4 linked regions of the Homo sapiens genome follow. Changing the gene in region 2 together with the main gene of any one other region gives a genetic interaction. Each region holds a gene or a part of one and is shown on either strand. Other genes may lie near its edges.

Region 1 (3,500 bases), on a different chromosome or scaffold from region 2:
GCAGGAGGATCACTTGAGCTCAGAAGTTTGAGACCAGCCTGGCCAACATATTGAGTCCCCATCTCTACAAAAAATACAAAAATAGCTGAGTGTGGTGGTGCACACCTGTAGTCCCAGCTACTCCAGAGGCTGAGGCAGGAGGATGGGCTTGAGCCCAGAAGATCGAGGCTGCAGTAAGCCATCATCGTCCCATTGCACTCCCGCCAGGGTGACAGAGCCAGACTATGTCTCATAAAATAATAATACTAATAAAATAATAGAAATAACTTAAACCATGGGTGAAAAATTGAATTGTTCTGGGAAAAATCAAGATGTATAGTTATCAAAGTGATAAGATAATGTGCTTTTTAAACTTTACTAGATAATACCAAGTGGTTTCTCAACATGGATGTTCAAAGGTATACCTCTTTCAGCTCTGTTGCTTATTTTTCTAATGGATCATTTAGTGTGCTTTTATTAATTTGTAGGGATTCTTTATGTATTCTTCGTGTTAATCCTTTCTCAGTTACATTTGTTTGTTTCACTTTTTTTAGGTTTTTAATGATAGAACTTTCCATTTTAATATAGCAGATGTATCCATTTTCCCTTTATGGTTTGTACTGATTATGCCTAGTTTAAGAGGCTTTGCCTACTCTGAAAATATATTCTCTTATATTTTCTTCTGAAAGTTTTGAAGTTTTGCCTTTCACAGTTAATTTTTGATCCCCCACCCCCGCCCCGCCCGAGACGGAGTCTTTCTCTGTCACCCAGGCTGGAATGTCGTGCCTCAATCTTGGCTCACTACAACCTCTGCCTCCTGGGTTCAAGCGATTCTCCTGCCTCAGCCTCCCGAGTAGCAGAGTAGCTGGGATTACAGGTGCCCGCCACCACACCTGGCTAATTTTTGTATTTTTAGTAGAGACGGGGTTTTACCATGTCGGCCAGGCTCATCTTGAACTCCTGACCTCGTGATACGCCCGCCCCGGCCTCCGAAAGTGCTGGGATTACAGGCGTGAGCCACCGCACCCGGCCTTCACAGTTAAGTTTTTAACGTCCCTGAGATTGATACTGTGTCTGTGGTGAGACAAGATTCCAAGTTTATTTTTTCCCAGCTGCATGATTTGTCTACACATCACTCAAGGAAAATCGTCTCTTCCTTTGATGTGTGCTACATATTCCCTTGTGATAGTTCAGTCTTGTTTTTTTTTTTTTTTTTTTTTTTTTTTTTTTTTTTTTTTTTGAGATGAAGTTTCGCTGCTGTTGCCCAGGCTGGAGCACAGTGGTGCGATCTCGGCTCACTGCAACCTCCGCCTCCTGGGTTCAAGTGATTTTCCTGCCTCAGTATCCCAAGTAGCTGGGATTACAGGCGCCCTCCACCACACCTGGCTAATTTTTGTATATTTAGTAGAGACAGTGTTTCACCATGTTGACCAGGCTGGTCTTGAACTTCTGACCTCAGGTGATCCACCCTCCTCGGCCTCCCAAATTGCTAGGATTACAGGCCTGAACCACCGTGCCTGGCCCAATATTTCAGTCTTTATACCATAGATTTTTGATGTATTCTACATAAATAATCATACACGAAGAATGAAGGTTTGTATTTTTTTCTTTTCAGTTTTTATTGTAGCTTTTAGTTATTTTTCTTGCCTTAATCCTGCCCGAGGACTCCAGTATTAGGCAGCATAAAAATGTTGAAGAGGACATCTTTATCTTTTTTCTACTTTTAAAGAGAATGCTTTAAACGTTTCACTGTTAATTTGAGGTTTCCTTTAGGTTTTTGGTAGATACCTTTGATTGCATTAAGGAAGTTACTTTCTGTTGCTAGTTTGCTGACAGGTTTTATCTTGAGCAGATGCTGAATTTTATTAGATACTTTCTTGTGCATCTATTGAGATAGTCATGTACTTTTATTTAATCTATCGCATTAAACCAACAGTACATTTCTGGGATTACCTGAGTTTGGTAGAAAATAAATACATTGCTGATTCAGTTAGCTAATATTTCAAGATTTTTGCATGTGTGTTCATGAGTGAGATGATAGCTTCCCTTTTAGTATGGCCTTGTCAAATTTTGGTCTCAAGGTTATATTAGCCTTATAAAGTGAATTGGGTCATGTGTCTTTTTTCTTCTCTGCAAGAATTTTTGTACTGTAGGAATTATCTGTACGGAATCTTTGGTAGAATTCACTGGTAAACCCTCTGGACCCTATATTTTCTTTGTAGGAAGACTTAACTACTGGTTATACTTTTTTTATGGTTATAGAACTATCTCGTCATATATACATGGTTATTACTAGTGTCTGCTTTGCATTTGAACCTTACATTGGAATAAGATTAGAGTAAGGAAACCCTTGAAGTGAAGAAGCTATTTTGCTACAAATTATATGTCCATTCTCACAAAATCTTATGTATATAATTTATATAGATGTAGCTTTATAATATATGTATGTCTTCCCATTCATAAAAGCATCATCTAAATCACGTTTTATATCATTTTTATTTGAGCATTCCTCTTGATTTTCTAGAGAAGAAACCCTCAGATCCTTACTTACAAGCATTTTCCTGCATCTAGATTTTATTTGTGTGAAAGCAAAAGTGATCATCCTTGCCCTAAATTATTAGGGCTTTTTATTACTTTGGTATTTACTTAAGAATAAAATTTATTTTTTTATTTTCTTCTCTTCTCAAAAGTGGTTTGCAGGTATTAATGAAAATTTTGGACATTCCCATTTTATCAGTTCTCCTTAATTTACAATTTATAAAGTTTTTAAGCTTTATAATTTAGAAGCATTTTACCTTAATTTTTATTATTTTGGTGGTTTTTCTAGGCGATGTTTTTTGTTATTATATCTCTGATAAACAGATTTCCCTAAATCTTACAGGTTTAAAGCAGCTTCATCTTCACAATAGTAAGAATTGTTTCTTTAAAAAGTTTCTTCACAAAGGCAATAAAACTTTTAAAATCTGTGAGATTGAATCAGAATTAGCTTTAGAACCTAGAATTTTGTTAGGGCTGAGGGTAGATGAGACGGAGGGAAGATCCCTTTCTCTCATCATTAGCTTATATCGAAATCAATTCTTATTTCTAAAATAAAATACGCAGACCACGCTAGTGCCTTCAAGTCCTGCTGGGAGACTTCAGAGGGGGCACTGCCTCATGCTGCCTGTTTGCTCCTTGTGCCCGGCCTCTATCCCTGCACAGGAAGGACCCGAAGGAGCAGCCTTACCATGCACAGGGGGCTCCCCCTTTGGGGTTCTAGGGCAATTTGTTCTTCGGGCTCCCGGTGAAACATGGCAGGAAAAAAAACGTTTTACTCCTTTTCATTGGATTTTTTATTCATTTATACTTAACAATTATTGGATGAATGTATAAGGGAATTAGTAGCTGACCAGGCTGAACCGGAAACTTCTTCAAAATGTATAACTTGGATTATGTACTTTAAAATAATGTTTTGGGAAGGCTGACTCATTGGGAATACTATGATGGAAGTGTTGACAGTGAGAAAAGGGTAGTCTTATCTA
Region 2 (3,500 bases):
AAGCTGAAGAGACAGGGGCCAGGGCTGCTGTAGCTGGGACCAGGCAGAAACAGGACAAGCAAAACTGGGGGCGGGGAAAGATGGAAACGGGGCAGAAAGGGCAGCTCAGACTGTGAGGGGACAAAGGTCACTGTGGTTCAGGAGCCTCCCACCGTCCTGAGCACACGTGTGCACCTGAGCGTGACTGTGCACGCAGTGTCTGCAACCAGACGGAGGGGGAGGGGGGAGGGGGAGGGGGAGGAGGAGGGGGAGGGGGAAGAGGAGGAGGAAGAGGAGGAGGGACCAGGAAGGCAAGGCACACAGCGAGAGGAGCGCAGGATGGAGAAGACCTGAGGGGACTGAGAGGCGAACGAGGCAGCGGCTGGAGCGGGCGGGCCGAGGGTAGACGTGGGAGGGCCAAGCAGGGACCCGCACAGACACTGTGTGCCCGAGACACAGGCGGGGTCCCTGACAGGGACATGGCCATGACCTTCAGTCAGTGGAGAGGAAGAGGGAGGAGGTGGCGGGGAGGGGGACACAGACCCGTCTCAGAAGATGCAGAAAGGCCAAGGGAAGGGGACACACTCTCTGGGAGGACCCGCTAAGCAGCGCCGCAGCGTCTCTCCGGCCCTCCACTCGCCTGACACCCAAGGGACACTTTCAAAGCCCAACAGCTAAGGACATGTGGCCACGTGCTGGCCCCGAAGTGCTCTGTACACCAGTGTGGACTCAGCGACACTCGCCACGTCCCGTCCACACGGGACAGGACAGGACGCGAGGAGAAGGGGCGCCAGCTCTGGGCAGCCGGAGGGGGACCGGGAGGATCTAGAAGCAACCCTCAGATTCCCGCGCGCTCAAGTTTCCCAAGATCAGAGGCAGTATTGGAACACAGCATCGGTGATGAAACAACGTATTTAGAAGTAGACATTTTCGCAAACTGCAGGAGTGTCTGAAACCACAGGGCTCGCCTGGTCCGGGCACAGTGCAAGAGGCGCTGGGTCCTGGGGGAGGCGCCCTGAGCGCTGTCTAGGAATGCGGCTGTCAAGAGGCGACATCACCACTGAGGAAGCGGGACAGAAACACCTGAAACTTCGTTTACACCCCACTGGAGCAAAGCCGCTCCCTCCTCTGACTGCGGGACTGGCCTGTACCTGTGTGATATAATTTAGCACCTGGAGAAGAGAAATCTAAAGAGATATCGTTAATCACACACAATTCACAGAGAGAAAAGGAAAAACAGCTTACTTAACATCACTGTACTTTACTATGAAACACTTAAGTACGTCACTAAGCATGTATGTCTAAATTAAGTTACGACTAAGACTTAACAGCGTAACCGACATGGAGGAGGAGCACTCCTAACCGTGGGGAGGGAGGTTCAAATGGCAAACTATGCTCCAGCATGGTGGGCATGCTGCGGCGCCACCTGGCGCTCGGGGCTGCCCCGACTGACCTGGGCCGGTGGTGCGGGGGCGGCACGGACGTGGCGGGCAGACCCAGGCTGCAGGTCTGCTCACGTGGCCGGCCAAAAGCAGCTGATGAACCAAAACCATGCGGGCGGGCGGGACAGACAGCAGCAGCCACGGAAAAGGGGCACAGAAACTGGGCGCCCATCGTCCCAGCTCCACAAACCAGCATGGATGGGTGTGCAAGAAGCTGAGGGAAAATGAGGGGAGGCCCTGAGGTGACTCCTCACCCCTCCTCCCACCTGCCCTGCTGACTTCAGAGAGGGGAGAAAACTGAAAAAAAAGAAAAAGAAAAGAAAAGGAAAAAAGAAAGAAAGAAAAAAAAAGCATGGGATGGATCACGGAAAATCCAAACTCCACACCGAGCCAGCTGACCCAGCTGACGACACGAAATGAGACCGGCCACACTGGGAGGACTGGATGAGGGTGAAGGAAGGTCAAATGCAGAAGGACCACACTCTTCCGGACAGTGAAAAACAGAAGCCAGGCCGAGACTCATGACAAGTCGTAAAAACTTCAAAAGAACAAGCCAAAAAACAATGTGTGACGTCTGACCTCGGGAAGCACAGACAGGCTGAATGGGGTGCACATGAGGAGCCCACGTTTTAGTCATTTGTCTCCAAATCGTCCCTTCCTGAGGCTGTTTGCTACAGCCGCCACCTGTGTGTGCCTGGCGGGTGAGATAGTTTGCCATCTGAGGGAGGAGCAGGGAGAAGGCCGAGGTCAAACTAGATCTGCCCTTACCTCGGGGCCTCTGCTTCTCGGCGTCATAGATCATGACTACCTCCGTGACCTGGAAGGAGAGGGTGGCGTCAGCACGGACACCAGGGCCAGCACCACAGGTGGTCTTCCGAGGGCACAGCCTGTTCCCACGAACCCAAACTCTCGCACAGGGTGCGCCCTCCCTGAGCGGGGGAGGTGCACGGGCAACAGCTGCTCCGTGGGGCTGCTGTCTGAGAAAGGCTGGAGCCCCAACACTCCCAGGGCCAGACGCAGGCAGGGAGAAGCAGCTCCAGGGCAGGCGTCTGGATACCCGCCTCCGGGCTGCCCGTGGCCCCGCTCACGTGTGTGCTGACGGACATGAAGGGCCAACAACGCCGACCACGCATCCTAGCAGGGGACGTGGGAGCCAGGAGACCCCACAGAAGCCCTTCCCACCCAAACGCGGGAAGCAAAGGGCACGCTCGGCCCTCACTCGAAGTGGCGGGGCAGCCACACACAGCTCCTCTGCAGACCCTGCTCTTCCAGGCCCCGCTCAGGCCTCTCATTCCTGGCCCAGGCCCGTGGCACCCTCAGGTACCACCTGATGAACGTGCGCAGTACTCAGGCACGCAGGGCTGTCCTGCTGGCGGGGCTCGGAGTGTGACCTGCGGGGCACGGCAGGAGTCCCAGCAGGACCTTGGGGTGACCACACGCCCCTGCCTTGGGTGACTAGGAGGGCTCCCCGCCGGCCCCCTCCGGCTGTCCCAGCTCCCTCTGGCACTGGGCTCAACGGAGCTCGGGCATTCTCCCACCTGCCCAGTGGAAAGTCAGCTCTGTGGGGCTGGCTCGCCCAGGCCACACTGAACCCCGTTTCTGTGTAACTGCCCTTCTCTGACACTGGACCCCACGGTGTTCACAATGGAATCGGGCGGCCGCCCTGAAGGCTGTCAGGCTGGTTCACCGCCCAACCACCCTACTGGGACACGAAATGGCCATGAAGGCAAAGGCCGGGCTTTCCACCTTTCCGGAGGGCGCAGGCGTTGGGGAAATACGAGACAGCGAGCTCCCAGCCTGAAAGGCCCGTGCACCTGTGGCTCGGCCACTCCAGCCCCAAGAAGGCCCAGGCCTGAGCAGAAGCGGCTCTGTCCCCACAGTGCTGCCGGGGTGGGGAGAAACTCACCACTCCGAACTTCTTGAAGTATTCCCTGAGCTCTGTCTCACCACAATTGTGAGGAATTCCACCGACAAATATCTTATTTGATTTACTGTTATCGCTCCTGGGTCCTTTCTGCTGTTGAAGAAGGGAAGGATAGTTAGTTCACACGGGAACCCTCCAAACCCTCCCGCGAGCTG
Region 3 (3,500 bases), 9.5 Mb from region 2:
GGACCTAGGAGGCCGCAGCAGGGGACGGCCCTGAGGCAGGGCCGGGGTCACAGTGAACTCTCTTTTTTTTTGGGGGGGGTCTCACTCTGTTGCTCAGGCTTGAGTGCAGTGGTGCGATCCTGGCTCATTGCAACCTCCACCTCCCGGGTTCAAGTGATTCTCCTGTCTCAGGCTCCTGAATAGCTGGGATCCACCACTGCAACTGGCTAATTTTTGTATTTTTAGGCCAGGCATGGTGGCTCACACCTGTAATCCCAGCACTTTGGGAGGCTTAGGTGGGCGGATCACCTGAGGTCAAGAGTTCGAGACCAGCCTGACCAACGTGGCAAAACCCCATTAGCCAGGCGTGGTGGTGGGTGCCTGTAGTCCCAGCTACTCGGGAGGCTGAGGTGGGAGAATCGCTAGAACCCGGGAGGCAGAGGTTGCAGTGAGCCGAGATGGCGCCACTACCACCTCCAGCCTGGGCAACAGAGTGAGAATCTGTCTCAAAGAAAAAAAAAATAGTTTTTTTTTTTTGGTATTTTTAGTAGAGACAGGGTTTCTCCATGTTGGTCAGGCTAGTCTCCCAACTTATGAGGTCAAGCAGTCCGCCTGCCTCGGCCTCCCAAAGTGCTGGGATTACAGGCATGAGGCACCGTGCCCGGCCCACAGTGAGCTCTTAACAGGCTATGGCCAATCGCAGCCATGGTTGGGGCGCCAGCGAAGCAGGCAGAGGGGCACCCAATGCCCATGTGTGGATGGAGGCTGTCCCTTGAGAGCAGGTCTAGGGAGGGCCCCATGGCAGGAAGACGCAGGGAAGCCCACATGGCCCTGCCCGCCTGCAGGTCTTGGTGAAGAGTAACAACCTGACGGACCGCATCGTGGTCATCCCGGGCAAGGTGGAGGAGGTGTCACTCCCCGAGCAGGTGGACATCATCATCTCGGAGCCCATGGGCTACATGCTCTTCAACGAGCGCATGCTGGAGAGCTACCTCCACGCCAAGAAGTACCTGAAGCCCAGCGGTGAGCACTGGGGGGTACACAGGCCAGGCCCCTCGGTGGAGGCCCTGGCTGCCGCTGAGCCAGGCCATCAGTGCTTCAGCTCCCTGCTTACTGTCGGTGGCCCGGGGTGTAGGGAAGCCTGGGCTTTTCCCCCGCTCCCACCCCAACCCCACTCCAGCCAGCTGTGGCTTTTGGAGCCCTGGGCCCCAAACACGGCCAGACACCCAGCTGCCCACTCGCCCAGACAGGGTACACAGGATCTCCTGGCACCTCTGCCGTCCCATGTCCTGCTCCTGCGGGACAGCCTCTGGCTGGGAGTGGGGATTGGGACAGGTTCTGTGGTCAGCAGTTCCCCAACAAGCCCTGCTCTCCTCACAGTCCAGGAGGTGGGGTGGGCGAGCATGTGTGCAAATGCAGGGGTGTGGGTGCGAGTGTACGTGTGTGAGGAGGTGAGGTAGCTGTCTGGCAAGCCCATCTGTCACTTCCCATCCGTGCCTCTGGGTATGGCCTCTGGTCACTGGGTGACTGTTTCTTTTTTTGAGACAGAGTTTCACTCTTGTTGCCAAGGCTGGAGTGCAGTGGTGCGATCTCGGCTCACTGCAACCTGCACCTCCCCAGTTCAAGCAATTTTTGTGCTTCAGCCTCCTGAGTAGCTGGGATTACAGGTGTGCACCACCACGCCCAGCTAAGTTTTGTATTTTTAGTAGAGATGGGGTTTCACCGTGTTGGTCAGGCTGGTCACGAACTCCTGACCTCAGGTGATCTACCCGCCTCAGCCTCCCAAAGTGTTGGGATTATAGGCATGAGCCACTGTGCCTGGCCTGGGTGACTGTTTCTATTTGCCCATCTGTCTTGGGGTCTGTGCAGCCCTGACGCCTGAGGCATGTGCCTGTGGCTCTTCTCATGCTAGGTATGTGAGCGTCTGAGCATTTCTGTACAGGCAAGCAGCTGTGTGTGCGTGTGGCAGGGTACAGGTCCCCAGCCAGGGTAGCAGCCATGGGATGGAGCGTGGGCAGCAGCAGGCTGGTGGGGCTTGTGCAGGCAGGGGCAGGGGGGAAGCTTCCACTCTCATCTCTGGCCCGCCCTGGATCCAGGCCCTAGGGTCCTGGCTGGCTGTGCTCCTGGAGGTGGGAGGTGGCGTCCCACAGCTGTGTCTCATGTCTTGGGTGTGAGTATGGGAAGCAAGGCTGCTCCAGGGGCTGTGGGCCCCACTCTCCTCCCCTTCTGCCCTGATGGTGGGGATGGGGGTGGGGACAGCCCCAGCAGAGAGGGCCCCTCCCGATGGGACATGAAGCCAGATGGCAGTCAGGCTCTGTGGGCAGCTGCATGTGCCCCCGACGTCCCAGCAGCCAGCTTGCAGGGAGGGGGGAGGCCAGGCCTGTGCAAGGAGGACTCCTGTCCAGCTCAGGAAGCTCTTCCAGGGGTTAAAGGCAGCCCTCCCCTCTCCCAGTCACATGTCTTCTGGTCAGCAGGAGCCAGAGGTTCCTTCCAGGCTGGGTCACTTCCCATGGTGCCCCCAGGTCCCCCAGGGCAGAAGCCGCAGCATGTGCATCTCCCTCCCCGTTCCAGCAGCTGCAGCCCTGCAGCTCTCGCCTCGGGTACAGCCTGGTGGCGTAAGGAGGAGGCAGAGTCCCACTGATACCTCAGGATCTCCTCCCCCAGCTTGCAAGGCTGGGGGGCCCACATCTGGAGGCCAGGTGCTCCTTGGGGCAGGCGGGGCTGCGGGGCCCTGATCCTCCCTGCCACTGGCCCTGACTCATGCGTCTACCCTTGAGTCACAGAGGGAGGCCCTGCCCTTCCCTCAGTCTGTGTGCCCAGACCAGGCAGGCCAAGTGGCCCATCCTGCCGGCTGGGTGCCTGTGCCAGAACCTAGGCAGTCCCTGTGGTGTGGATTTGGCTTCCCCCACCTGGCTCTTGGCCTCAACTGAGGTCCCCAGCGGCGTTGGGGTAGCCCGGGGCCCACCACCCTCCCTCTGTCCAGAGCAACTTTGCTATGCTTTCCCGGCTGCACACATGCACAGACGGCAGGGCCTGAGAGGCAGCGCCTGGCCACATCCCGGGCACTGCCTGCTTCCCCGTGAGTCTTTGGCAGGTCCCTCACACCTGCCAGGTCTAGTAATAGGACATAAAGATGAGCCACCAGCCTCCCAGTCTCAGGTGGAATTCGTGAGCTGGTGCAGGTCAGGTACCCGTGGTGGTGATGAAACACTGATCAGAATAGGCGCTCGGTGCCACTGTCACAGGAGTGCAGGAACGAATGGATGACAGGCTGGGAGCACCCAGGGTTGGGGGTCTTGGGGTCCTTTGGAAGCTCTGCCAGGCAGTGTGGGATGTGTCACCTGACGCCAGCACCCCTCCCTGCCCCACTCCCAGGAAACATGTTTCCTACCATTGGTGACGTCCACCTTGCACCCTTCACGGATGAACAGCTCTACATGGAGCAGTTCACCAAGGCCAACTTCTGGTGAGTGTGCCCTGGGTGTCCCGCCTGGGCCCCACAGCCTGCCTTCTCAGGGACA
Region 4 (3,079 bases), on a different chromosome or scaffold from region 2:
TGTCTGCCTTCTTTCATTTAGCACAGTGTTTTCAAGGTTCATCCACATTGTAGCATGAATCAGTACTTCATTCCTTTTTATGGCCAAATAATATTCTACTAATTGAATATCTCAAATTTTGTTTTTTATTGACTGAACATTTCTGTAGTTTGCACTTGTTGGCTGTTGTGAATAATGCTGTTTGTAATGCTAATTAGCATGTGCGTACATCCTTTGTTCTTAATCTTAGGGGAAAGGCTTTCAGCCTTCATCTTCGAATATGATGTTAGATGTAGTTTTTCTTAGATGCCATTCTTTAGATCAGGTTGAGGAGTTCCCTTCTATTTCGACTTGAGTGTTTTTATCATGAAATGTTGGATTTTGTCAAATGCTTTTTCTATGTCTATTGATGATCATGAGGGCTTGTTTATTAATATAATGTATTACATCGATTGTTCTTTATTAATATGTTATTAATATCTTTGTTCTTTATTAATATGTATTACGTCGATTGACTTTCATATGTTGAATGTTATGATATTCTATAGAGCATATATAATGTTATTTTACTGCTTTGGTTTTATATAATATGAACCAATTTCTCTATATTTCAGGCATTTATTAATACAGCAAAAGAAATTTATGAAAAAATTCAAGAAGGAGTCTTTGACATTAATAATGAGGTATATACATATAAATATTGTTGGTCAATATTAATTTAGAGTTCACTTTTGATTACTATTTTATATTTTTTATTTTATAATTCATTATTTTATAATTTTTTTAATTCCTAAAATCAATCATGATAATCAGTTAACACCATTAGTTTACAGTCATCCAACTGAAAAATTGGTATATGTGGTATAGTAGTTAAATATTTATGTTCTAGTAGAGCAACACTTTGTCTATGGAAATGGATTAAAGTAAGTGGCCCTATCCATTCATTGCAAGCAATGCAAAATAATATAAATCCCCCAAAGAGAAAAGAAAATCCACTTTTATCCACATGACCATATGGTGTCATCTGCTTTGGGAATAATGTTCTGGTATATAAATGCATGTACTATGTACTAATGCAAGATGCTCTCTCTGTTATCTGGCAGGAAAGAGGGAAATACCAAATTTGGAAATTACTCCCAATATAGCATAGCATGTTTTCAGGAGACTAAATTCATATATATATATATAAAATTGGCATTTGGCATAGGGTTTTTTGTAATGTTATTTTGATCCTGTTTTGGTCAACATGATTAGGATAAAATGTAAAGCTTTGAAGCATCTAATTCAGAGTGTTCACCAAAGATCATCACTTGACCCACATCCCCACTCTGCATTTATCTGTATTTATTTCAAAATGTTTATGTGGATGTAGCCTACTTATTCTTACATAAATATTTTTGCCATTCTGTATTAAGATTTCTGGCTTCTGAAAGAAAAGCCCTGGTTTCTCCCCAGTTGCAGTTAGAAAAGCATTGTGTTAGGAAGCCATTATGTATGTCTCTCTCATCCTATACATAAATGAGGCTCTCTATTACTTCAGTAGTCTCTGCTCAGACAAACAGCAGTTTACCTAAGGTTTCCAAAAAGTACATGATTTTTTCATTGTTTAATTTGGAGTAATATAGTTTCTAAATCCTATCTTCTAGGCTTATATGACGGTACTTCTTGAGTTAGTTTAAAGGTGACACCATTCAGAGACTAATGCCATATAAATTGAACAGTAATTGGGCCTCTATCTAAAAGGGCACATTCATTGTTTCTGTCTGGTTTCATATAGTAGCTGACTGCTTTACTGTGCCTTATGCAGCTTTGATTGTAATGTGCTGTTGGGAGCCAACAGGCCGTGCTATTTATTTGGCCTAATGCCAAGTCTGACTCCTTGACTCCTCAAGAAGTTGCTACCAGCCCAGAGGGGGCAAAATCAATGAGCCATAGGGCATGCTTTTTATTAAAGAGGAGTCAAAAGAGCGAAAAGAAACCACATCAGCTGCTGTCAATACTGAGCTAGTGCCAGAAACCCCAAGGCTACTACTGTTGCAGAACAACTGCCAAGCACTATAAATCTGAGATTTACTGTGACGTAAAGTTTCCTTAAGAGCTTAATTTCTGAAGCTACTGTATTACTTTTCTCAAAGTGTTGTATTTTTAGGTAAAATCCACTTGAGGGAGTGAGGGTTAAGACATAAGTGTGAGTTTGATGAATGAAAGAACTACTCTGTGTGTGGGTTCTTGGCAAGCTGCCATGTCTTTGGGGATCATAGAAATTATTGATGACACAGAACACTCATATGCCCTTAGCCTGTACAGCTGATTCAACATGGAACAGAAACACTGTCTAGAGAAAAGATTTTACGTTGTATTAAAGCAGCATGGGCTTTGGGTATTTTTATGCTTTAAAGATTACTTGCAATAATTATTTTAAATGATTTCTGCATTATGAGAATTTCCTGAAAAGCAGCATTATCCAATAACTGTTTACCCCGTACCTGGTATGATAAAGAATTATTTTCAGAAACATTTCCACAGTGTTTTTAAAAGGAAGGAACATCCCTTAGGAGATATTGTTTTAATTGTTGCTAAAATCTACTTGCTGTATTTTTCTCAGTTGTTTGATAAAATTGTATCATAAAGAATTAAATGAGTTTTTTAAGAATTAGTTAAACTATATTGTCTGGTCATATTTATTGTTCTGTTCTCTTTTATTTCAGGCAAATGGCATTAAAATTGGCCCTCAGCATGCTGCTACCAATGCAACACATGCAGGCAATCAGGGAGGACAGCAGGCTGGGGGCGGCTGCTGTTGAGTCTGTTTTTACTGTCTAGCTGCCCAACGGGGCCTACTCACTTATTCTTTCACCCCCTCTCCTCCTGCTCAGCTGAGACATGAAACTATTTGAAATGGCTTTATGTCACAGAAGACTTTAATCCGTCAAATTCTTGTATAACTTTGAATAAATGGTTAATGTTCACTTAAAAGACAGATTTTGGAGATTGTATTCATATCTATTTGCATTTGATTTCTAGGTCAATTGATGTGATTATTTTTGTTAAATGTTGTCTTGTGCCCTTAACTACGAACTGAATTGTATTAAACACTACA

What was found.
Region 1: changes in DAZAP1 (region 2) and TRAPPC12 together harm fitness more than expected from each alone (negative genetic interaction), as found in Homo sapiens cells (one large-scale study listed by BioGRID).
Region 3: changes in DAZAP1 (region 2) and CARM1 together harm fitness less than expected from each alone (positive genetic interaction), as found in Homo sapiens cells (one large-scale study listed by BioGRID).
Region 4: changes in DAZAP1 (region 2) and RAB2A together harm fitness less than expected from each alone (positive genetic interaction), as found in Homo sapiens cells (one large-scale study listed by BioGRID).

The regions. Positions count from the first base shown.
Region 1 is NC_000002.12:3,382,694-3,386,193, forward strand, and holds part of TRAPPC12 (trafficking protein particle complex subunit 12), read left to right. Parts: intron 1-3,500. UniProt on the Homo sapiens protein: Component of the TRAPP complex, which is involved in endoplasmic reticulum to Golgi apparatus trafficking at a very early stage.
Region 2 is NC_000019.10:1,421,086-1,424,585, reverse strand, and holds part of DAZAP1 (DAZ-associated protein 1), read right to left. Parts: intron 3,439-3,500; coding exon 3,328-3,438; intron 2,239-3,327; coding exon 2,190-2,238; intron 1,167-2,189; coding exon of another isoform or gene 1,075-1,166; exon of another isoform or gene 876-1,074; intron 1-875. UniProt on the Homo sapiens protein: RNA-binding protein, which may be required during spermatogenesis.
Region 3 is NC_000019.10:10,913,053-10,916,552, forward strand, and holds part of CARM1 (histone-arginine methyltransferase CARM1), read left to right. Parts: intron 1-824; coding exon 825-1,002; intron 1,003-3,354; coding exon 3,355-3,445; intron 3,446-3,500. UniProt on the Homo sapiens protein: Methylates (mono- and asymmetric dimethylation) the guanidino nitrogens of arginyl residues in several proteins involved in DNA packaging, transcription regulation, pre-mRNA splicing, and mRNA stability.
Region 4 is NC_000008.11:60,617,987-60,621,065, forward strand, and holds part of RAB2A (ras-related protein Rab-2A), read left to right. Parts: intron 1-593; coding exon 594-662; intron 663-2,687; coding exon 2,688-2,783; 3' UTR 2,784-3,079.